Linked DNA regions of Homo sapiens: regions 1 and 3 are each linked to region 2. Evidence: fine-mapped expression QTL. A gene starts in region 2. Each other region holds a variant in brackets. All regions are shown on one strand. Distances are from middle to middle.

Region 1 (8,173 bases), 21 kb after region 2:
TGCCATAGTGAGACCCCATCTCTATTTAAAAAAAAATTAGCCAGGTGTGGTGGCATGCTCCTGTATTCCCAGCTACTCAGGAGGCTAAGGTGGGAGGATCGCTTGAGCCCAGGAGGTTGAGGCTACAGTGAGCTGAGATTGCACCACTGTACTCCAGCCTGGGTGACAGAGTGAGACCCTGTCTTAAAAAATACATATAAATAAGTAGGCTGGGCACGGTGGCTCATGCCTGTAATTCCAGCACTTTGGGAGGCCGAGGGAGGCAGATCACTTGAGATCAAGAGTTTGAGAACAGCCTGGCCAACATGGTGAAACCCATTCTCTACCAAAAATACAAAAAATTAGCCGGGCATGGTGGTGTGTGCCTGTAATCTCAGCTACTCGGGAGGCTGAGGCAGGGGAACTGCTTGAACCCAGGAGGCAGAGGTTGCAGTGAGCAGAGATTGCACCACTGCACTCCAGCCTGAGCGACACTGTGAGACACCGTTTCAAAAAAATTAATAATAAAAAATAAATTAATTAATAAATATGTCCAGCCAGTGTCAGTGTGACAGTTGTGGTCATTTTGATAACAGCAAGGGTTCAAGAAAGCCCTGGGAGTGATGTCTGATTAAATGAACTGTCCCCCCAGTTCTTGCTGTCGACATCTTTGACAAGTTCAACTTCACGGGAGCCAGAGTCCCATGGTTCGACGCCATTCATGAAGAATTCCCCAGGGAGCTGGAGTCCTCCATCTCCTTCCCAGCCAACTTCTTCAAACCACCTGAAGAAAAAGGTAGAACCGCTTAGAAACCTGCTACTTCCCTTGGAGTCCCCAGCGTTCAGGGAGGGGAGGGCTCCCCCTGCGGGCATCCCAGGAGGATGAACACGCCATACTCCCTGCGCACTGAAGATCCGGGGCCGGAGTGTTCCGAGTGTTCGCTGGCACCAAGTCCTATTGGTGACAGCAGGTTGTTTTGTCCAAGTGCTTAGGTAGAGGTTGAGCATCCTAATCCTGAAATCTGAAATGCTCCAGAATCTGAACCTTCTTGAGCACCAACCTGACACTTAAAGGAAGTGCTCATTGGAGGGTAAGTATGAAATGATACTTTAAAATAAAAAAAAATCAAAATCCAGGCCGAGCACAGTGGCTCATGCCTGTAATCCCAGCACTTTGGGAGACCGAGGCAGGGGGATCACCTGAGGTCAGCAGTTCGAGACCACCCTGGCCAATGTGGTTAAACCCCGTCTTTACTAAAAAATACAAAAAATTAGCCAGCTGTGGTGGTGGGCACCTGTAATCCCAGCTACTCAGGAGGCTGAGGCATGAGAATCACTTGAGCCCAGGAGGCAGAGGTTGCAGTGAGCCAAGATGTGCCAGCCTGGGTTACAGAGTGAGACTCTGTCTCAAAAAAAAAAAGAATCCAGAATGTTCCCAAACATTTCAGTTAAGGGATACTCAGCCTTGTAACTGATAACTTGAGAAAGAAAAGAGAACTGAAATTTGTATGTGAGCTGATTGTCTTTGATGGGCAGTTGAACCCGTGAAGTTGAACTTGTCAAAGATGTTGACAGCAAGAACTGGGGGGACAGTTCCTTTAATCAGACATCACTCCCAGGGCTTTCTTGAACCCTTGCTGTTATCAAAATGACCACAACTGTCACACTGACACTGGCTGGACATATTTATTTATTTATTTATTTATTTATTTATTTATTATTATTAATTTTTTTGAAAAGGTGTCTCACAGTGTCGCTCAGGCTGGAGTGCAGTGGTGCGATCTCCGCTCACTGCAACCTCTGCCTCCTGGGTTCAAAGCTGCTTCTAGCTGGGCATGATGGCTCACGCCTGTAACCCTAACACTTTGGGAGGCCGATATGGGGAGGATCGCTTGAGCCCAGAAATTCAAGACCAATCTGGACAACATAGGAAAACCCCATCTATACTAAAAAAGTTTTTTTTTAAATTACCTGGGCATGGTGGCACATGCCTGTAGTCCAACCTACTCAGGAGGCTGAGGCGGGAGGATTGCTTTAGTCCAGGAGATGAGGCTGCAGTGAGTTGTGATTATGCCTCTACAGCCCAGCCTGGGCAACAGAGCAAGAACCTGTCTGGGTCGGGGGAGGCAGGGGAAGCTGATTCTAAATAGAAATAGAAATTTTAGACTCACCTTCCCTTCCCTGCAAGAAACAAACAAACAAAAACAAACAAGAATGCTGTCTGTGTATGTACAAATCTTCACTCCTGGGTTGAGATTATGATACAAAACAGTTTGAACATTCTGAACTTTCTTAAGGTGCTTTTTTTACAGATCTGTGACAATTACTAAAAACTTCCCCAAATAAAAAGGACATGAAAAGGTAAACTCCATAATGGACAGTTTAAAATTGGAAACCTTCTTAGTAAATGGATTTTGTCAGGTATATGGTGTTACCTCATGTGTCTTTTTTTTGTTTGTTTTTTTTTTTTGACAGAATCTCACGCTATCGCCCAGGCTGGAGTACAGTGGCGCGATCTCCGCTCACTGCAAGCTCCGCCTCCCGGGTTCACGCCATTCTCCTGCCTCAGCCTCCCGAGAGTAGCTGGGACTACAGGCGCCCGCCACCACGCCCAGCTAATTTTTTGTATTTTTAGTAGAGACGGGGTTTCACCGTGTTAGCCAGAATGGTTTCGATCTCCTCACCTCGCGATCCATCCGCCTCAGCCTCCCAAAGTGCTGGGATTACAGGCGTGAGCCACCGTGCCTGGCCCTCATGTGTCTTAAAAAGAGGGGTGACTCTGATGTGGGGTCATGCTTGAAACTGAGAGGACGAGGTCCCCGACCCTCCATTGCAGCCAGCTCTCTCTGGAACTAACAGAGTGAGAACTCGCTCATTACCAAGGGGAGGACACCAAGCCATTCATGGGGGACCCACCCCCATGACCCAAACAACCCCGACCACGCCCACCTCCAACCCTGATCACATTTCAACATGAGATTTGGAGGGGCCAGACCTCAAAACTGCATCAGATACATTCATGTTTAAGCAGTCCATCTCCAGAACTCTTTTCATCCTGCAGATCTGAAACTCTAGCCCACAAAACACCAACTCCACTCCCCAGCCACTGGTGCCCACCGTTGTTTCTGTCTCTGAATTTGACTCCTCTAGGGACCTCCCATAAGTGGAATCATACAATATTTGTCCTTTTGTGCTTGGCTTATTTCACTGAGCGTAATGTTCTCTAGGTTCACCTGTGTTGTAGCAAACGTCAGACTTTCCCTCCTTTTGAAGGCTGAGTAATATTCTGTTGTGTGGATGGAGCACGCATTGTTTATCCACTCACCTGTTGACGCATGCCTGGGTCGTTTCCACCTTTCGGCCTGTGTGAATGGTGCTGCTCTGAACAGGGGTGAAGACGTATCTGGGCGTCTGCTTTCAGTTCTTTTGGGTGTATACCCAGAAGTGGGCTTGCTGGGTCACGTGGTAAATCCTGTGGTTGATTTTTTGAGGACGCACCATACTGTTTTCGGTGGGACATCTGTTGGGTTTTGAGAAGCACCTGCTGGCACTGAGAGCTGTCTTGGGGAACACAGGTGCTCCTGCCGGAGTCCTCACGCTCTGCTCACGTTGCAGAAGGCCCCCTGGTAAGGCCAGCCAGCCGGAGGACCACCCCGCAGACCACACGCCCAGGGCCTGGCACCGAG[G/A]GGGAGGCCCCGATCAGCAGGTGAAAGCGACACCCTGATGACACTGGCTAGTTCACCTTCACTCTGGTCATCGTTTACTGTACCCCGGGGCAGCTCCCGCCTGAGCCCTATGACCCCAACCGCCGCAGCCTCTGGTAAGGCCTGGGTATGGGGCACATGGAGAGGGCCCATTCCAGAGGCTCCTAAGTCAAAAGAGATTCCACAAGTCAAAATCCTGATCCTGATCAAGCACAGGCCTTCACAGTGACATTTCACTGTGACCCTGGCCCAGAGACAGAGACCACTGTCCTGCAGTGTCCCTGGGAGGGAGGTTCTGGGTCTGCCACAGGACACCACACCCTGGAACATTGCACACCCTTTGCCTGGCCTTTTCCCAGTGTTTCTGTCAGAAATGCCCCCTCCCAAGCATACACCCCATCTTGTGCCCCGAGGGACTCGATTCTCTCCCCACACACCCGACCCGAGGCTGTCATGGGTAGTGCCTGCTGCTGGCCCCAGGGTTAGGGCTGCTCAGCCAGTCCTGGCTGGAAAGGATGAATGTCCCACAAGCAGCTTTGGGGCCTGCTTGGTGGGAGCAGCCCGAGGATCCGCCCTTCGTCCTCCTGCCATTTCCCACTTCCCTGGCTCTGGGGTCCTCATGTTCACGTGGTTCTCAGTGACTGGGTGATTGACCCCCATGAGCTGTCATTATTTTGGTGTCTTTTGCTGGACATTTAAGCCATTCCTTGTGTTTCTGCCATTAGCTATTATGGGCTGTAACATCTTTGCACCTGTGCCTTCTTTCTTTTTAAATTTCTGAAGTCCTAATTTGACCCAAAGGTGACACATCTCCCTGTGTGCCCTGTCAGTGATGAAACCTGCTCTGGGGATGAAGATGCCGTGGGGCCCACAGATCCAAGCTCTCGGAGTGTGATTCTGTCTCCCCTAGAAACACATCCATGGCATGTCCTCAGGGCATTTGTGCATGGGATTAAGCAAATGTTTCCTAATCATGTTTGTCCCTGTGCTCTGGCTTCTTGACCTCAGGCTGCCTCACTGGCCCATCATTAATACGTCGATGGTGAGCGCACTGGTGTACAGCGAGGGGGCTCCACTTCCGAGACCCCTGGAGAGGCCCGTCCTGGTGGAGTTCACCCTGCTGGAGATGGAGAAGCGAACCAAGCCTGTCTGTGTGTTCTGGAACCATTCCCTGGCGTAAATGTGATGCCGGGAGTTCTGCATCTTCATGTGAGGGCTTTGCCAAGACACAGAGAACCCGCAGGGTTGTTGGCTCAGCGGCAGATCGTCCCACGGGGACAGTCTCTTGTGGTCTGTGTCTCCCCCTTCAGCCCCCTGTGGGGCAGTGAGCCTCCTGCTCTGCTTCTGTGGGTGCATCAGAGCCCCCCCAGATGCCCACACGCAGACGCGCACAGGCCTGCACGTGGAAACACAGACATGCGCACACGCAGGCCCACACACAGACGCACACAGAGCTGCACGTGGAGACACGTGCGCACACGCAGGCCCACACGCAGGCCCACACACAGGTGCACGCGGACCTGCACGTGGAGACACAGATGTGTGCACATGCAGGCCCACACACAGGTGAGCGTGGACCTGTGTGAACAGATGCGCGCAGACCTGCACGTGGAGACACAGACATGCAGGCGCACAAAGAGATCCCTCAAGGCTGACACCCAGGAAGGGGCCTCTCACTTGTGGGACTCCCGAGATGCAGTGGCCAACACGAGTGTAGTGCCCAGTTCACTGCTGGATAAGACAGAGGCCTGTTCTGGTCACACATGGGAGGCAGAACCCAGAGACTGGGCCCAGGAGCCCTTCTGCTGACAGTGGGAACTCCCAGCTACGTGTGGGGGTCCCCATACCAGACAAAGGTCCCTGACCTTAGTCTTGCCCGAGAGGCCGACACAGCCCAGCTTTGGGGTCTGGCTTTACCCACAAGAGGCCACACCTTGCCACAGCACTGTTTATCTGGCCTGTTTCAGAAGCACCGTCAGAGTGGCGAAGGCAGGAGGTGGTGCACGAGAGTCTACGTTCTAGCATCCATTCAAGTGAGGGAAAGGCGTTTCGTACTTAGAAAAATGCAAAATTAATGATTCTCACCCACACATGAGACTGTGGATTCACCCATGTATGAGATAGTGGATTCAGAGCCATGCTGTGGCTCTCATCTGCTGGGAGCCAGTAGTGTTTGTGCTTTGGTTTTGCTTTTTTAGCTACATGGTTTATGTGAGGTGCGGACTTACTTGAGTTGCTCTGTCTTTACAGGGAGCTTGCTTTTTCTCTGCTGGTTTGTTTTCACTTTTGCTGTCTCTGTTTAGAAGAAAACATTAGAACTGGGGTGTGGTGGAAGGATGGGAGCACAATCTGGGAGGGGAAGACCTGCTCTCTCTCCACATACCAGGAGGGAGTGGCAGGAAGGGGAGACACTGTGCCGGACTCAGGGAGTCAAGAGCGTGAGCACCCCCAGGCTTCAATCTGCTGAACGTTGTGCATCTGGGGGCGCCCGTGCAGCAGGAACACTCTCCCCATCACAATTCCTCTGGGCACAGTGGAGAGCCATGAGTGGGGGCTGTCCTGGGGGCTGCGCTATGGTGAGTGAGCCCACGCCAGGAGCCAGTTCAGCCCAGCCTCATTCTTCTCCTGCTTCTTTGCTTTCCAAGTTCTAGTTCATAAGCAACCAGCACAGTACCTGGAATGTAAGAGGCGCTTGGCTTATAAAAGAGAGAAGAAAGGAACCCCTTTCACCACGAGGGACGTCAGGCCCAGCTCTCTGTCCCGGGCATTCATCTTTTTTCCGGCAATTAGCTTCAGCTCTAATGACCTGCTGTCTGCTTTATGTTGCACCTATGATTTCCAGATTGTAAAGTTTGTGGCAAATGTATTAACGTTCACATCCCATTTACAGATTAGCAAACTAAGGATCTGAGAGGTTATGTGATTTTCCCAGTCTGGCGGAGGGCAGGGCCCTGTCAGAAGCCGAGACACACCTCGTAACAGCTTGTTATTTGGGGCTTCCCATCAGTGAGGCAGGAGTCATAATGGGGCCCTGGCTTCTGGGCAATTCCCATAAAACATTGTGCCACCTGAAGATGGAAGTGTCAGAGGAAGGCGAGATGTTATTTCTGAAAGCATCTACCCTCAGAAAGAGACAGAGGAGTGCATCGCAGCTGTGTGAACCCGGGGTGGTGGTGGTTCCAGCAGCGGGGCACGTGGTGGACGCAAGACGGCCCCGTTTGAGTTTTGCTGCTAGGTGACATGTAGAACTTGAACTTCAGAGGGTGCTCCTTGGAGGCCCTGATGAGAGAGACACAGAAGGGAAGGGAGACTGTTCCCATGGTCCTGCCTCTGCGGCAGCGAGCCTGCTGCTCTTGCAGCTGGGTGGCTGTTCGGTGCAGGGGGCCGGTGAGGAACACGGTGGGGAGCAGCCTGCGAGGGCGCCGGGCTTTCAGCACTCACTATACCTGCTGTTTGGTTTGGCCAGGATGGCCTGGGAGTCCCCAGGGCCGGGCAAAGACTGCCCCCAACAGACATGGGCGGAGGGAACCGTCTCACCCCTGCCTCTTCTCCCTTCTCTACGCAGTGTCAGTGGGACGGGAGGGTGGTCTGCCCGGGGCTTCAAGCTCCTGTCCAGGAACCGGACCCATGTCGTACGCCAGTGCAGCCACACGGCCAGCTTCGAGGTGCTCATGGACGTCTCCAGGTGTGAGATGGGCATCTTCTTGTGGCCACTATGCCCGCTGAGCCTACCCCCAAACCTGCCCCTCCTCAAACTAAATCTTCCATTCTAAGCGCTTTGAACGAAGCAAATCAACCAATTAAAAAAATATATTCCAGGATTGGCCAGAGTCTGTGAAGATTTCCATAACAAATCCCCGTTACAAGGGTTTTCAGAGAGCCCTGGTTGTGCATTAAACCCCGCGATGGCAAACCCAAAGCTCAGGCTCTGAGGAGCTCTTGGAGTCTGCCCCTCGCTTCAGAGATGGTCTGTGCGAGGGTGCCGCTCTCCTCCCGCTTTGATCATAAGGAAGGTGACAGCTGCTGGGGACGGTAGGCACTCTCCCTCAGGGCCACAAGCTGGGCTGCAGGATAAAAGACTGGGCGGCTAATGTTTAACCTCTGGCATTTTAAGCGGCCTGGGAGTGTGAGCCGGCCATTGTGGGCCTGCAGATGAACTGGGGAGTGGCCCGAGTGCTGTCCTCGGCAGGACAGTGCTATCCAGCCAGGAAGTGGGTGGCAGCCAGCCTGGGAGTGGCCTATGTGGGACCCTCCTGTCTAGGAGTCAGAGCCAGAGGCCTGGGTGGCCTCCCCTGGCCCCTCCCCAGGGCTGCGCTGTAGCTCAAGGGCCCAGGCCACCATCCTTCCCGAGGGCTTTCTGATGTGAAGTGGCCCTGGTTTCTGTCACAGTCTTGGAAGGGTGAGTCAGCCCTGGGGCAGGGCTGGAGGAGGGCTGTGGCTTCCTGTACAATGTGCGGGGGAAGCTGTCCCACCTGTGCCCCCATCTCATG
Region 2 (8,173 bases):
CCAACCCAGGTTTGACTGCCTGCTGGGCTCCTGGTGTTAACAGCAGCTCCCAATTTAGCTGTCACTGCCAGGTGGGTGGCTCTAGAAGGATCCGTACTCCCTGCAGGGGTGGGGGAGGGGCGTGAAGCCACAGCGGATGCCTTGGGCACAGCCCAGGGACCCCCACCTTCCGGAGCTCTGCCCCTGCACCAGATTTGTGCCTACAGGGACCAGAAGCCTCCTACTCCCCAGCCCCACCCAGCCGGCCTCCCCAGAGAGAGGCCACCAAGTTGGTTGTGCCCACTGAGAGAAGACCCTGAGCCCATCTGCTGGCGAACACAAGTGGCCCGAGCTCATCTCAAGGTCCAGGAACCCTGGGGACTCACCCCTTCCTCTGGGCACCAGGAAGAGTGGTGGACCAGGGGTCCAGGTGCCAGCCTGGCATGTCCCACTTGGTCGAGTGTCCTTTCATCTCTGTTCAGGTTCCCATCCTGGAGATGGGCCACAAGGGATCCAGTCCAGGGCTGGGGGAGGCAGCCCTGTGGGAGGAGGCCCTTGCTAGTGAAGGGTCAGAGGCATTTGGAGATGGGCAGGCCCAGTGGGATTCTTGGGGCCACTGCCAGGATTTGGTTGTCGGTCCCTTCCTTGTGCCAGCCCCCTTTGCTGCTGCGTGTGGCTTTGATGAATAAGAGATGAGGAAGCATATTAATTATGGCTTAACATGCACCAAAGTTGGGCAGAGGGACTCCTAGGGATGGGAGTCCTCAGGGGTGCAGAACTGATGGGGGAAGACCAGGACACCCTCTGCAGCCCTGGGGATGGGGGATGGTGAGAGGCTTCTGGAGGAGGCAGAGGCTGTGGGCAAAGAGAGGGCTGAGAGAGGCTGCCAAGACGTGGGTCCACCTAAGCTCCCCAGACCTCCTTCTCTGGTCTGGAAAATGGGTGGTGGTAGTAGTGTCTACACTGCAGGACTGAATGGGATGACTCACTCAGCAGGCCTGGCACAGAGTCCTCTCGGGCCTTGGGCATGCAGCCACCCTCTGTGGTGAGAGCAGATGGCAGGCTGACGCCCCCCAGCTCCCTGGCACCGGGACCACATCCCTAGCCGCCCACTCAGAGTGCAGGGAAGGGTTGGTCACATTGACACGCTTGGGCAGCAGGCATGTGCTTGCCGCATGACCTTCTAGCTTCCTTCCTGGTCTCTCCTTGCATTGGCCTGGAGTGGCCCAGAATGTGTGGAGCAAAGACCCAATTTCCTTGCTGCCCATCCCTCCCCAGGAGACACCGAGGGCCTGGATGTCCGTGAGAACCGCACAGGCATGCCAAGGAAAGCCATGGCACGCCTATCTCTCCAGGCGGGAGATGAGCCTCCCGAAGCCCTGGGAAGAAGGGACCTTCCAAGGAGGCTGAACCGTGTCCCTGTCAGCCCAAGACGGGCCACTGCGAAAGGTCCCCTCATCTCAAGCTGGCTTCTATGGGCAGGCATGGAGTTTTGAGTGAAAACCCTGCATGATCCTCTCAGGGGACAGGAGGGGTGAACAAAGGAGGGACAGTGACCAGCTGACCAGGCCCTGAGGCATTAGCGTCTGCCTCGTCCACATGCTGTGCAAGCTCAGCGAGGCCAAGGGGCTGGGCCGAGGTCACACAGCTGGGCAGGGCCCTCATGACCGGCATGCTGGTCGTGGAGGCCGAGCCCCAGGTTGGGGGTGGGGGTGGGAGGTGAGGCAGCCCCTGGCCTCACTGGAGGGGGGTGGTGGGCTGGGGAAGCTGGCAAAGGATGTGCCCTACATGGTGGGTGTGAGGTGGGGAACGATTCGGGCAGATGCCCGTGTGGCCCTGCTGACCCAGTCCAGGCAGGGTGTGACAGGTCTGCCCAGCCCTGAGGTCACAGCTGTCTGCAGTCTCCAGCTCACTCCTGATCCCCAGGGCCACGTGTCCAGAAAGCCTGGGAGCTTGCATCAGCTGGGCACAGATGGCCTGTCCTCCCAGCACCCCTGCTGGGGCTTCCTAGGAACTGACTGGTGTAGACTCCGGGCAGCAGACGGCCAGGCTCTGCCCACAGGGTCCCTGGCTCCTCCCATGAGGTGACCCGATAGAACTGGCTGTGCCCCTTGACCAGGGGCTCCAGCCCTTGTCAAGCCCTCCCTGCTAGCCCCTCACCAGCCGTCAGCTGCCCTCCCTCCCTTGCCCGTTGGGCCCTGGGGGGGTGATGGCTCCGCGGTCGCCTGCCCAGAGAGTACACCACTCCCCATGCTGCCCCCCGACCTGGCTACACCCTGAAAAATGTGGCTTACCAAACCCTCCCACATGCACAGCCTGAGAAGCGGGCTGTGCCTTGCTGGTAGCAGACCGACCGGCTGCCTAGCCCTGCTCAACTCTGCCTCTGCACCCCCATAACTCCCTATCAGCGCTGGCCCACACCTAATCGTTCCAGCTAGCACCCAGGAGTGGGCTCAGCTTCCAGTGGGGAGGGCGCTGGCCAAGGTGCTGACCGAGGTGGCGGACACAGGAAACCAGCCGGTCCCCCAGCGCTCCCTCTGTGGGCCTTGGGCCTGCTCCCACTGCACAGACAGGTGGGGAGGTGGAGGCCCAGGTCCCAGCCCAGAGCAGCTGGGAACAGCCGGACTTGATGGCTGGAGAGGGCTGTGGTGCCAGAAGCCTCCAGGTTAGCCCTGGCTCCCCATTTCCCCCCATGCCCATCCCATGCCCCAGAATGGTCACTTTGGCTGCTGCAGGAGGGGTGGGAGGGGCTTTAAACCTATGAGATAGGGTGTGGGGTCACAATCTTCAATTGTAGTGGGCCGCTCTGGGTCACTGGTAATTGAAGAGACGCCTGCATAGTAAGCACGCAAGTGTCCTCTCAAGCCCTCTCTGCAAGCACAGAGCAGCCCGAGACTGGAGCCTGGTCCACCCCAGCGCTGTCCTCAGACTGATGGTCAGTGCCTCATGACTCATCTAGGGTCTGATACATCCCTGTGGTGAGAGCTCAGTTCCTAGTCTAGGGGCTGCTGCGTGCAGGGACCCTGGAGGAAGAATGCTTGTTTAGGGGTCAGGCCTCAGCCTCCCACTGGCTCTGTCAGCTTCGCCTGAGGTTCCCCATCTGTGCAATGGGTGATGACATCTTGGTGTGGCTCTGGGAGGACCTGTTGAGCCACCTCAGGGGCTGAGCTGGTGGCACTCGGCAGCCAGCACCCTCTGGGGAGGTGGCAGTGTGTGCACAGCCCACCCCTTCAGGAGGCCAGGGGACAGAGTGGCTGGGGGTGTCTGGGCCCCACCTCACCTTCTGTGTGGCTGGGAATGGCATGCACTCCACAATGCCCTCATAAGCCTAGGCTGGGACAAGGGTGATAGGGATAAAGCAGGCCAAGGTGATGAGGGCCACAGAGCGGCAGCCAGAGGCATGTGGGCAGTGCAGCCTCCACACCAGGCAGAGGGCCCGGCCAGCATGGCTCCACCCTGGGAAGCTGCCTGCCACTGGGATCAGATGGGAGCACCAGGGCTCTGGGAGGTCCTCACTTCCTCTGGACAAGGCAGGCAGGTCACCAGCCCTGTGCCCTGCTCATCTCCCTCAGGGCCACCTCCATGGCCAGGGGCAGGCAGAGAGCACAGGGCTGCCCAGTCACCAGGTCTCTCTGCTTCATATCAGTGGACCTGGGCTCTGAGGGGAGCCATCAAGACCTCAGGCTGGCCCACTCCGTCCTTGAGTCAGGGTCCTACAGACTGACACCAGGTTGGCCTGCAAGACCCTGGTCCTGTCATGCAGGGTGGGCCTGGGGAGGACCCAGCCCAGCTGAGCTGACTCCCAGCACTCCTCCAGGTGCAGGGACAGCCTGGCAGTTGTCTGAAGACCCCGGGATGGGCTTAGGAGCTCATCATCATCGGATGCCCCCCGAGCAGAAGACGGAGAAGGAACACCCCCACCCTGTGTGGTGTGTGTAGGGGTGTCACTGGGTTCTCTGGCTCCATGACGCCCCCCCGGCCCCGCTGGGGGCTGGCTTAGTAGAGTGGGGGATGATACTAAGCAGGCGGCCTCGGAGAGCGTCTTCTGGGTTTGGAGGCCACATTCCGCAGGAAGGAAGAGGTGGGGGACCCCTGCAGGGTTATGGGTAACATCAGGCCTGGGTCCCCTCCCTGGGGTGGTGCAGAGAGGGCCACAAAGGCCCAAGAGGGCCCCCAGAACGCTCTTAAGCCTTGAGCCTGTTTCTTACTGAAAAATGGGGGCGATCGTGCTCCAGCAAGGGGCTTCTGTGCAGGGGGCGGGGGGGGGCGGGGGGTTCATGGGTTTCGTGAGGCCAGGAAGCGAGTGGGTCGCGCAGAGGCCATCCCCAGGCCTCAATGGCCCCAGCCGCCATCCCCTCCGCCGCCTGCAGGGCCGCCGCCTCTTCAGGAATGCGCGGCTTTGTCTAGGGCCGGGTGGGCTGAGCACCTCCTGCTGCCCGGCCTACGCTCCCCGGCCAGCCGCGCCGCTCACGCCCCAACTTGGGCCCGCGCCCCCCAGCCCCCGCCCAGGCCCGCGCCCCCCAGCCCCCGCCCAGGCAGGCGCCTGCGCCCAGGTGAGGGCCCCGCCCGCCGCCGCCTCCCGCGCCCTGCGCGCCCGCGGCCCGAGCCCCGCCCGAGCCGGGCGGAGCGGAGCGCGCGGAGCCTAGACCCGCTGCCGGGCCGGGGCTGGGCCGGAGCGGCGGCGCCTGGATGCCGGCCCGGGGCTGGGCCGGAGACTGGCGCCCGCCCCGAAGCGACTTTCGGTCCCCGACCCGCTCCGCCTGACCCCTATGATGAAGAGGGCGTCCACTGGAGGTGAGTGTCCACGCGGCGCCAGAGCCCAGCAGGCGGCGGGGCGCAGAGCGGGGTGGTTCGCCCCTCCTCGGAGCCGCAGGGCCCGTCCAGGGCTTCCAAGGCTGGGGAAGCGTAGCCGGGCGGCCGGGAGGGCCACCGCAGTGCCGCGCCAGGCTGGGGCCAAGGGCGCCCCGGCCCCGGGAGGGCGGAGCCGGAGGCAGCAGGAAAAGTTGCCGCTTCCCGGGTAAGTTGACGGCGATGGCGGGGCCGGGGGTGGCGGCCCGGGGGTCCCCGAGGCTGGGCCAGGTCCGGGGTGGGGGCCGCGGGCTGGAAGGACGGGGTCCGGCCTCGGCGCCGCGGCCACGAAGGGGTTAATGAGCGGGTTTTTTTGCAGAAACGCGGGTACCGAGAGTAGGTGGAGGTATCGGGCCGCCTCCGCCCCCGCCTCGCGGACTGGGCTCAGAACCTCCCGTTTTTCTGAGGTCAGGCCTCAGGGGGATCAATGGGGGCGTTGGCGGCAGTAGAGGGCGTGGGGGACAAGGTTGTCCCAACGCTGCCTCCAGGGCGGGCGGTGAGAGGAGGCAGCAATGCCCAGACATCCGCAGCCCGAGGGACATTGAGAGGCTTGGCTGGGGGAATCAGGGGTGGTGGGGCAATCAGCATCCCCTCCCTGGCAGCCTTCGTGAGACTCCCCCGCCCCACTGGGTGTGAGGTCCCGCAGTGGGGGGCAAGGGAGGGTGGGCTCCATGTGAGTTGGGCATGCCCTGCCTGGAGGGTGCTCCCCAGGTGCCCACCCAGGCTGCCCTGCTGATGTCCATGGTGTCGCAGGCTGCACACACGTTTCCTTGCACGTGCACATGTCTACACGGACTGCACACTTGCACACCTCTGGTGCACATGCGTGCCAGCGCCACCCCAGTGTACACATGCACGAACACTGGGTGCACACACGGACTCTGAGGGTGCATATCTGTGTCCTCGCCCCCGCTTGCACGCCCACGGCCACACATGCATGTACGCGACATGCCTGCTGTGGTCTCCACGGGTGGCACATGCTGGGGCCCCTTTCACAATACCCACTCCCGCACCCACATGCTCGTCTGTTGAGTGGGGAGGCCAGGCCCACAGACAGGGGCAAGACATCCTGGGCCCCACCTCTGCCTGCCTGCCTCCGTGTCCTGGGGGTCCCCGCCTCGGGCGTGTGTGCGTGTGTGTAACTTGGTATGCATCTGCACGTGTGTCTGTGCGCGTGATCATGTGTGCCTGCGAGCACATAGGCATATGTCTCTTTGCCTCCAGGGTGTGGGTGCCCCTTGTGTGCCTAGACAGGCTGTGGCCTAATCTGGAGCAGAGGCCCTGGAATGTGTGTTGGGGGCTCATTGAATGCCCCCAGCCCAGGGTGTGAGGGGCAGGGTCTCCCAGCCACTCCGCACCCACCAGGGCTGAGGCAGTGATAGATGATGGTGGGCTGGAACCTGTCTGGTCAGGGAAGACCCATTTCAGGCCATGAGGTCAACACTGTGACCAACAGGCCAGACCCTGGGCACCCTTGGTGGCCGCTGCAGCTTGGCTGACTGGAGCACGTGACCCAGCGTGACTGCAGAGGCCCCGCCTCCAGTACCTCAGTTTCTCCATGGTGAGGACCTTCTTGGTGAGGGGTTCCGTGGTGGGCTCCCCTACCTCCGGTGTTGTGTAGGGTGCTGAGCAGATGGATGCCATGCTGCATGATGGGCAAGGGTGGCCCACTAGCACTGTGGCAAGGGCCCTGGGCTGGGGCTTCAATTGGCAGGCCACACCTCCTGCTCCCCTGGCCACCACCAGAGGCTCATCTATAGAGTGGGGACCAGCAGGTTATCCTTGTAGGTTGTGTGAGGGTGAAACATACTAGCAGAGGGGCAGCTGAAGCAGTGGGGCTGGCCAGTCTCTTTTTCTAAGCCTCAGTCTTCCCATCTATAAAGGGGGTACTGTTCCCTGTTCTTCTCTACTGAGGTGAGGAGGAAGTGAGCTCCCATGCCGGGGGTGGGAATGGGTGGCCATCAGCACCTAGACCCCACCTGGCAGAGGGGCACGTGCAGGGCCTGCCGTGGCAGAACCGTGACCTGGATTTGGGTCCTGGCTCAGCCACCTGCTGGCAGTGTGACCTTGGGTGTGACAGGTCACCTCTCTGCCTCAGTCTTCCTCACCTGCACCATGGGCCAGTGGTCAGGGATTATCGGGGCACTTCCAGGCTGAGGCTGGGCGGAATTGGCCCGGCTTTCCCTGTGGAGTTCCGACTCTGGTGCTTCTGCCTCAGAATGCCCAGAACACCTCCCCACACCCCAACTCAGCAGAGTCCTCCTGGGACCTTTGCATGGCCAGCTGGCCCCTCACCCCATCCATTTGCAGAAGGGACAATAAAAGCCCCTAGTCAGGCAACTCAGGCCACAGGTGAGTGGAGAGGGGACAGGGCAGGGATGCTGCCCAGCTTGGGAGACCCTCCCATAGTACCTTCACTCCCTCCCTGCCCTCCCCCTGTTCCTCACCTGGGGGTCTGTGGAACCCCTGAGCCTCAGTTTCCCTGTGCCAGGGTCCTTCCACTGGGACTGGCAGAAACGTAGGTTTGCATGGAGTGAGAAGCAGGGGAGAGGTTGAGGGAGGGCCTGGCCCAGCAGGTCTCTGAAAGCCAGAGGGCTTGTGGAGGGTCTATGGAGGACACCCCCACAGGGGCTGGGGCCCTGGAAGGTGGGGGAAGGTCCTGTTGTCCTGGGAGGCTGGGGACTGGCCCACAGCCTGTGGAGGGGCTGGGGTTTGTTTGCTGTTGCTGTGAGTGACAGGCAGGCTGTGAGGGCCAGGGCATGTGGGACCGTGCCCTCCGCCTCCCTCTGCCCAAGGACAGTGCAGCCTTGTAGCACTGCCCTCTCCTCGTCCCTGCCCCAGCCTTGAATTCATGCTTTGTGGCACGGACGGCCCTGTGCAGCCGGTGCAACACCAGGAGGGTCCAGCTGGTGAGGACAGGACGGGTGGGAGGCAGAGGAGCCCTCCTGCTGTCCTGGGCCTGTGGCCCGGAACCTCTCACCGGGAGCCTTGGTCTGTGCACCTGGGAAAGGGGTCAAGAACAGGAAGCATACGGGGAGTTTCAGGATGACCTGGAAATGAACAAATGCATGTGTGAGCCAGGCGCCCTGCCCGGCCCTGGCACAGGGTTAGTGAGGGCTCCCGACGCTTGGCTACTGTCTGATCAATGAGGTTCATGCCGTCCCGCCCCCATTCTGGCAAGCCTGACCTCTGATCCCCAGGCTGGCCTGCCTGACCCTCTGCAGCCACCCAGGGCCTGGGCTTTGGGGTCTGCAGGAGCCGGCCTGGCTGCCTGCTGCCTCTGCAGCTGTGCAGATGCCCTCTCGGGGCCCTCTCTGCACCCCTCAGTGTCCCTGCTCTGCAGCCT
Region 3 (8,173 bases), 67 kb after region 2:
ATACCCAGCTGCCCTCACCTTGCTCTCTCTCACCTCCGTGGGAGCACTCCGGCCACCCCACCTTGTTCCCGAGTCTACCTCCATAGCCTGGCGCTGCCTGTCCAGGCTGTGCTCCGAGTCTGCTCGCCTCGGGCCCCCCCACCGCCGGCAGTTGAAGTGCAGCTGCAGTGCGCGGTAGACAGGCAACAGCAGCCCAGCCTCCCAAATCTCCAGGTGGTTCTGAGGATCAGTGTCCATTCAGAGTAGCAATGAAGGGGAGGAGGCACACGACACCCTCTCTACCTCACCACCTGTCCATCTTGTGCCATTAGGGCACAGGGTATGAGCAGAGGCCCTTCCTCAGGCCAGGTTTCTCCCCAGTGCGGCCCCATTGCCTCCATGGAATGGAACCCATGGTGTCCATGGCTCCTGCTGGTCAGCAGAGCAGAGCTCCACAGACTGCAGGGGAAACCCTTCCCCCCCCCACACCCAGCATGGCATGGAAGAGGGCAGAGGGCAGCCCTCCTGGTGTGGGGCTCTAAGCCCAGCTGTGTGTGGTCAGGGATCCTGGCCCTGCCAGAGACCCTGACTCCTGGTCCTCAGGGGCCATGGCTGGTTGTGATTTGTAAGGTGGGACCTGGCACCTACACAGAGGGTGCATCTGGACTGCTGTGTGAGGATGCTCCTTTCCTCTGAAGCTAGCCCCTGTGGAGGGTTTTTGGCCCTGTAGGTTGTCTCAGCTCCCGTGTGTAGGGGGTCCTGGTCCCTGTGTACACGCAGGAGCTCTCATGCCCTGTGTGGGGCTCCTGCCTCTGCCTAGGAGGGGTCCTGACCACAGGGTGCTGACTTGTGTGGCTGTCATTCTCCAGGGTCCAAGGGCCTGGAGGTGCTGAGTCATAGCCTCGGAAGATGAAGGGCCCTAGGGTAGAGTTCCGCCGGACCCTGTGAAAGTCAATGTTGATGAGGGACTGGCCTGGGCCCCCACAGGCAGGGGGCCAGCTTCTTCCAGTGGGTGGGGACTGCTGGAACAAGGACTGGGGCCTTTGGGGTGGGGGGGGGGTCAGGGAGGCAGCCTGGGGGTGCAGCAGAGAGTGGCCCCCATACACCCAGAGGATAGCCCAGCCTCAGGAAACCTAGCTCCCTGCTTCCCCCACACCTGAACAGGTCACAGCACCCCCCTTCTCTTGTACCCTGCATCTGACCTATCCATCTAGTCTCCCAGTTGGCTGCCCCATGGTGAGATGAAGGTGGAAGGGTCTCCGGCACACAGTTGCACACCCACACTGGGACCTCTATCACCTGCACACACTTGGGCTGGCCACAGTAACGGGCACACCAGCCTTGACTGACTCGGGACCGGCAATCACAGCAGGCCCAGACTCACACACAGGGGGACAGTCACGCACTTGCACCTGATGCCCAGTCAGTCTACTGGGGCAGACGACTACAGACAGAAACCTGCAAAGGCCACAGAGTGCAGGGTGCAGACTGTCTCTTGGCCACTCTTGCACCACTGGCACATGCTCTGGTGGTCCCAGGACACAGACTGATCTGACACAGCCTCACATGACACTCTGTCCTCACCATACTTGAGGTCCTGGGAGTCATAGCACCAGGCACCTATAGAGACAGTGGGCAGGAGGCTGAGCTGAGAGGCCAGTCATCTGGGCCCTCTCCAAGCCCCATCCCATCAGCTGGGGTCCAAGAATGAAGTAGGTCAGGGGTTTAGGCCAGGGGAGGCCAGTGAAGAACCTTCTCTCCTGTCACCCCTACCTCAGTATTTTCTCTCCCCAGTCCCTCCCCACTCCCAGTGGCAAGACCTAAGGGGTGGTGGAGCATGGCAAGAGGGTAGATTGGAGGCCAGACAGGAAGAGTCCTGGTGCTCACTCTCAGAGTCTGCGCCACACCAGCTGCACCGCAAGGCGAGCATGATGCCAGGGGCGTGCGTGGCTCAGTGGCAGCCGCAGCTAGGAAGGACTAGAAAGTGGCTAGACCACGCAGCCAGGATGCTGGCCTGGCTACTACATATTTATTCATTAGCTAGCTGGGCTAGGGGCGTGGCTACTGAGGAGAGGATGGGAGGGGTCGGTGCCCAGGCAGGGCCACCAGGAAGAGCGCGAGCGCTCCAAACTCACCCAGGTGTGCTCTGGTCCCAGGGCTGCACTGATGCCAGCAACAATCGCTGAGGTTAATCCTGCAGGGGAGGGGTGACCTATTATTATCCCCACTTACAGTCCAGGAAACAGAGGCTGGGGACCAGAATGACACACCAAAGCCACCAGCAAGAAAGGTCAAATAGTGAGGGCACCTTGGACCCCAGTGCCCATGACTTTCGGGGCAAGGATGGGAGGAAGGTGTAGGATGTCTCTTGCCCCACTGTGGGCCCGGAACTGCCACCCCATCCCAAGACCACAGCCTCCCTCCTACCCAGGCCCCCCTGCGGATCCAGGCCAAGACGGAGCCCTGCAGGAGGTCAGAGGAGGGGACTTCTTTGCACCCTGCGCCTCTTTCCAATCGCCAGAGGGCAGGGCCCTACCCACATTGGGGATGGGAAGACAGCCCCTACCCAGAGGCAGGGCTCGGGGCTCTGTCCAGAGTGCTGACAGTGACCTGTGTGCTCGGGACTCAACACCACCACTCCACTCCTGCCCCAGCAGATGGGATAAAAAATGAGGGGCCACATCCTCGAGGCTCCCATCCCTGCCAAGGGACTTACCAGTTCCTTTCCTAACCCTGACTCCTCTCGTGTCCGGCCGCAGGACGTCCCCCCAGTATACACATCTGGAGTGCCCCCAGAGCAGGGCATGCAATCACACTTCCTGGGCCCACTACCCTCTGAGACCTAGAGATGGCACTGCTGGACATGAGTGAAGAGGCCCCAGAGGACCTAGGCTACTTTGTAACATTAGGTGGCTTGGACTGGAGGGAGGGGCTGTTTCCAGCCACCCGGATGATGAGGGGAGCTTAGAGGAAATGGCGCTGACGGCCAGGTTCCAAGCCCTGCCCTACCACCCCGTCCCATGCTAGCTCCCAGATGGTGTCAAGCAGCCTTGCCTTTATGTGGATCCTGTGCACGTCAGCAACACCTGCCAAGGCAGCAGCCGATGCCCCAAGCAGGGCTGGGTGCTGCAGGATAGCTGTAGGCAGCTCAGGGCTGCTGCTCTCCCTGCACACTCCACCT[A/G]GGGGCTCCAGGCTCAGCTCTGCCTGGTCCTCAGGGGGTTTGATGGACGCCTGCAAGGGCTGCAAACCCTAGGTGCATTCTGCTGAAAGGTGGGTACCCAGCCTCTTCCACCTTAGCCTGTGGCAGCCGTGGGGGCCACACCAAGGACTAACCATGCCTCTTCCGGAACACAAGTTTATTTGGCATTTGGATGAAATGATTCTCACAGCATCTTAAGAAAAGTTAGTGTCAACCCAACCAAAAACTAAAAACCCTTAATGAAAACATAAAAAAACAGGCATCAAGACAATGTACAGTATCAAATCCCACCTCCGCATGGCAGGTCAGAGGGCACCTGGGCTCTGAGAAACCGTGGCAAGCTGGTCCTAGAGGAGGAGGACCCCTGGAGCACAAGGTTCAGCAAGGGTGACCCCGGGACTTGCTGGTCAGACTGGGGACTGCAGCAGGCCTTGCAAAGGGGGCATTCTGGATGGTGGTGCAAGAACAGATGAGCGAGTCCAGCTCTCCTCATGCTCCCAAGGGCCTCCTGGAGCCACAGTGGCAGCGGTGTTCCAGGCAGCCCTGCCATGTGGACCTTCTGCCTGGCCCAACGTGCCAGTGGCCTGAGTGCTTGTGGAGGCCCATGGGGAAGGGGCCACCCAGCAACCCCGGCCAGCCCAAGGCCCACCCTCTGCAGCCTGCATGGTCCACTTTACCCCGTTTCCTCACTGCCCCCTACGTGTCTGACCGGCCCCTAATGTTCCTCTGGTCCCCAAAGGAAGCGTCCCAGTCCCACACATCTCGTGCCAGCCACCCTGTCCCGCACACACAGTTCTGAGGCCTGGCAGGAATCCTCTGAGCTCTCAGGCTCAGGCCCGTGGGGGACTCTGCTGCGTGGTCCTCGGGCCCTCACTGGCCACCTGGCACCCATAATGCACATGCCTGCTGCTCTGGAACCTGGCTGCCCTGCCCCAGTGCATGTGGGATCCACGGCATGCTTCCTGCTTCGTCCTCTGCAGCCAGTAGGGGACTCCTGTGGCCAGGACTTCCTTGTTAAGTAGCAGCCCTTCTCCAAGGGGAGCACAAGCCTGCCCGCACACAGCCTCCAGCATCATGCTCCAGCAGGCCAAGCTCAGGGACAGGCAATTCAGTAACAAAACTCACAGCTCTGGACAGTTCTGGCACAAAGGTCAAGTCTGTCTGTGGGCAACTCAAGATTCTCATTCCACATGGGATGGAAAAAATGGGTCTCCAGCCACAGTGTGAGAATGTGTCAAGAAGTGGACTGTGCATGGAGTCCATCCCCGAGCAGCACCACAGAACTGCATGCTTCAGACAGGCCTCCCAGGTGCTGCCCCGCTGGTCTGGAAAGACTGAGCGAGACAGCACTGCCTCAGCACAGCCCAGGATGCATCGATGACCCTGGAAGAGTGGGCCCCCAGTGACCCGTGAAGTTCCATGTGCCACCCTCACCTGCAGACGCTTGGCCACATACACACACAGAGACACAAACATACAAAGGAAAGATCCAGACATTCAACGTAGAAAAGATATGGATGTGCTAAAAATCGCACAGAACCCGCTTAATCTCCAAACCTCAGAAATGTTAAAGGCCCTGTGTCAGGCAACAAAACCACTGCCCAGGAGCAGGCAACAGGGTCCGTCAGGCAAAAGGGTGCCAGGAAGGGCCCCCAGCCCCTGCGCTGCTGAGGAGGGGCCGGGAGGTGTGCATGCGGCCGCTGGGCACTGAGCTGCAGTAGTGGCGGTGATGTAAGGAGTGGACTTTAAGGAGATAGATGCAGCCCAGGATGGTGGTTTCAGCCACCCCTCCTGCAATGAAGCAACCCTTTATGGCACAAATGGGGCCGGGGGCAGGCCCAGGGGCAATTCAACAGGAGGCAAGAGCCCAGGGCTCCAGAGTGGAGAGACAGGAGGCAGCTCAGTCCCCAGACCCCAGCAGAGCATCTGGGGCCTCGGCCCCACTCCAGAGCTTCTTCCTGAGGGAGCCATGCACAGCAATGCTGGGAGAGGGACTGATGGGGTGGGGTCAGGCCTCCTGCCACAGAGCTGGGCTGCAGAGCCCAGATGGAAAGACACAGTGAAGAGCTCAACCTCCTTCCAAGCTCTCCTTCTCAGGGCTTCAGGTTCCAGAGCCCCAGGGGAGCTCCCAGCCAGGGGCAGGGTCACCTTGATATTCACAACTGGGCTTGTGGGGGCCATCTTCAGTGCAACCGTTGTGACAAAGTCAAGAGGCTGCCTCCCTGAAGCAGACCCACTGCCTACGCCACACTGACGGTCCAGAGGCCCCCTCCTGAGGGCGGCCAGCAAGGGGCACTGTGGCAGCTCCCACTGTGCCTGTCCCAGACTGGGTCAGCAGGTCTCTCTGGACAGCACACTGCACCAAGTAAGCCCACCAAAAACGCATCAGGTGTGGCCATGGCCCACAGTACCTTCTTCATTCCCTGCCTCTAACATGTGCGGTCTGAATGAATTTTGTCACTCTTCTGCCATTTATAAAGGAGAAGACAGTGATCCAAAGCTATGCATGTTTCTGAAGCCCTCAAGGAAGCTCGGTGCAGGCCATCACTTCTTTTGGCAGAAGGCGGGCTGTGGTCTCTATGTACACACGCGAGCCCGCCAGTGACGTGCGGCAGTGCGTGGCGTCCAGGCTGGGACAGGGGCCTTTCAAGTCTCCCCAGGGACCGGTGTTTTCTACAACAGACAGGTGCTCCCAGACCGTTGGGGTACAGGCCAGGCCGTCTACACCACAGTATTGAGGGAGCTGCGGCTGTGGCGGCCACCCCCTGGCAGTGCCTCTGCAGCTGGGGTGCTCCCGCTCTGGGCAGGGTCAGGGGGCACGAGCAGGGCGCTGCTGCTGTCGGCAGAGTCTTCCAGGTCTGCCAGAGAGGCCCCCGCAGTGGGCAGAGGCTGCTCCAGGCGCCGGAGTAATGCACCTTCACTCCCACCATCCCCAGGGGCTGGCAGGCTGACCTCCACAGGCTCAAAAGCATCATCGTCTGCAGGAAGAGACAGAGGGGTGTCAGAGGCAGGTACGGGCCTGGCACAGGGGATGCAGGGGAGCTAGGCAAAACCAGGAGACACTCCTCCTGCCTGAAGGCCCCCCTGAAGCTGGGTGGTGAGCAGGACCTGGGTGGCTCCCCCGGGCCTCAGATTTTGAAGGAGGAGCCTGCCCCACATGACACCTGTTGTACCTACTGCCCCCTGTGGCTGGGAACCTGGTATATGCAAGGTGCAGGGCCCATCTCACAAAGGCAGACACGGGCCTGTCCCACCATCGGTGTGAGGTAGGGGAGACACACTGACCAGCAGTCACTAGAACAGAGGGGCCCAAAGGGAAACCGTCTCAGACTCAGTAAGGTGAAGACCCGGCTCAGCAAGAAGGCAGGGGCATTTGTCATCAGGGAGGCACTGGGCCCAGGTGGGTGGAAGAACATTCAGGGCTGCAGCTGGAATGTGGCAACCGGAGTGTGGGCAACAGGGCTGCAGTGAGCGGCCTGGAAAACCACACAGGTGTTTGCAGGAAGCTCTGATCCAAGGCAGGCTGTGTGGTAGGCAGTCGACTCGCTTTGTTTTGCCCGATCTTTATTACTTGCTTTTTTTTTCTTTTAAGAGACAGGATCTTAAAAGATTGCACACTGGTGTGCAGTGACGTGACCATGGCTCATGACAGCCTTGAATTCTGGGCTCAGGTGATCCTCCATTCTCAGCCTGCCCAGTAACTGGGACTACAGCTGTGCCCACTATGCACGGCTAGTTCTGAATTTTTTGTGGAGAAGGAGGTCTCACAGGCTGGTCTCGAACCAACCTGGGCAACATAGTGAGACCCCTCCTCCCGCCTCAGCCTCCCAGAGTGCTGGATTACAGGTGTGAGCCACTGCGCCTGGGCTGCCTGCTTGTCATTACCATAGGCTGTCTCTGAAAGCTAACAGCACAAGGCCCCGGTGATGCACCTCCCTCCCGGCCAGCCCCTCACAGCCCCCACCCTGCTCTGCAGCCTGGCCCACACAGGTGTCTGGGATCTGCTGCCACCCACCACCATCCCTTGCAGGAAGCTGGTCCTACCCTGGAAGACTGTGACAATCTGTGTCATGAGGGCAGGGGTCAAATGCAAGTCTTTTCTGCACCCCCAGATCATGCAAGAGCTGTGGCAGCTGACTAAACAAACGAACAGGACTGAGACCTTTAGGCACAGCAGCCCCAGCCTCACAATGCCCATTCTGCCGAGATGGGCAGGCATGCAAGGAGCCAGCCACTTTGGGGTGGCACTGCCTACCAAATATACTACAGGTTTGTGTGTGTTAGGGGGCCTAATGCACAGGGAGATGGGATGGGACACCTGCACTGCTCAACAGAGACAGAGACAGGCCAGGGGTCAGGGGCCTGCCACTCCTTAGCTACACAGCCTTGAGGAATGGCGCCCACTCTCAGATGGGTGGTAGGCTCCAACTATGGGCCAGTAGCACAGAAGCCACGCTTTCCTCCCACCTCACAGAGCTGCCTCCTGACACGACAGGAGGGGCTGTCACCATGGTGTCTCTAGCTCATGTGTCTACAGACAAGTGATTGGCTCCTGGGTCTGGGCCAGCCCTGTCTTCACAACCACCACTGTCGGGCTCCCCAGGTCTCTAGAGCTGGGCTGAGGGCCCTGAGGGCTGCCCAGATGACAGGTGCTCACAGAAGGCAGGGAGGTAGGAGGGAGGGGTCCCAGGCCTTCTCAGAGCTCTCTGCACAGATTGCCAAGGGCGGCCAGGCAGGGAGATCAGGACCCCTTCTGCACGGGCAGCCCCAGGAGAAGCCTTAAAGGAAAAACCAAAGACAAAGCCGGAAAGAAGTGAGGTCCCTAGGCCTCTGCAGCTGGGCAAGAGTGCTGGGCTCAGCCCCACGTGCCAGGTTACTTGACAAGGTGTTCCCTCTCCCTGGGGAGTCAGGCACCTGCAGGGTCATAGAACACACTGTCCGGGTGGATGGAGGCCTCGTAGGGCGGCGGAGGGTCGTCGGGCTGGCCGATGTCCG

Direction of the effects. Alleles are on the strand shown, and positions count from the first base shown. SD is a standard deviation of normalised expression in the study named.
As copies of A replace G in region 1, the expression in anterior cingulate cortex of the gene that starts at base 4,583 in region 2 goes up (moderate effect, 0.51 SD a copy in GTEx).
As copies of A replace G in region 3, the expression in lung of the gene that starts at base 4,583 in region 2 goes up (moderate effect, 0.46 SD a copy in GTEx).

What was found.
Region 1: its variant is fine-mapped to the expression of DGCR5 in anterior cingulate cortex (GTEx, PIP above 0.99). The same link has a PIP of 0.9 or more in cerebral cortex and prefrontal cortex.
Region 3: its variant is fine-mapped to the expression of DGCR5 in lung (GTEx, PIP above 0.99).

What each region holds. Positions count from the first base shown.
Region 1 is chr22:18,987,126-18,995,298 of GRCh38, forward strand. It overlaps DGCR5 (DiGeorge syndrome critical region gene 5), which reads left to right. Exons shown (of 6, transcript NR_110533.2): 2 at 632-775; 3 at 3,595-3,799; 4 at 4,692-4,892. Among named protein-coding and RNA genes, the nearest start is that of DGCR5, 21 kb to the left of the region's middle. The variant G/A (reference allele first, on the strand shown) is at 3,666.
Region 2 is chr22:18,965,886-18,974,058 of GRCh38, forward strand. It overlaps DGCR5 (DiGeorge syndrome critical region gene 5), which reads left to right and starts at 4,583. Exons shown (of 6, transcript NR_110533.2): 1 at 4,583-4,773. RefSeq lists an enhancer at 3,664-4,495.
Region 3 is chr22:19,032,966-19,041,138 of GRCh38, forward strand. DGCR2 (DiGeorge syndrome critical region gene 2) reads right to left here. Exons shown (of 10, transcript NM_005137.3): 9 at 8,093-8,173; 10 at 3,321-6,156. The coding sequence ends at 5,900. It also overlaps the pseudogene CA15P1. Among named protein-coding and RNA genes, the nearest start is that of FAM246C, 7.5 kb to the left of the region's middle. RefSeq lists a silencer at 3,054-3,223 and an enhancer at 3,707-4,327. The variant A/G (reference allele first, on the strand shown) is at 3,161.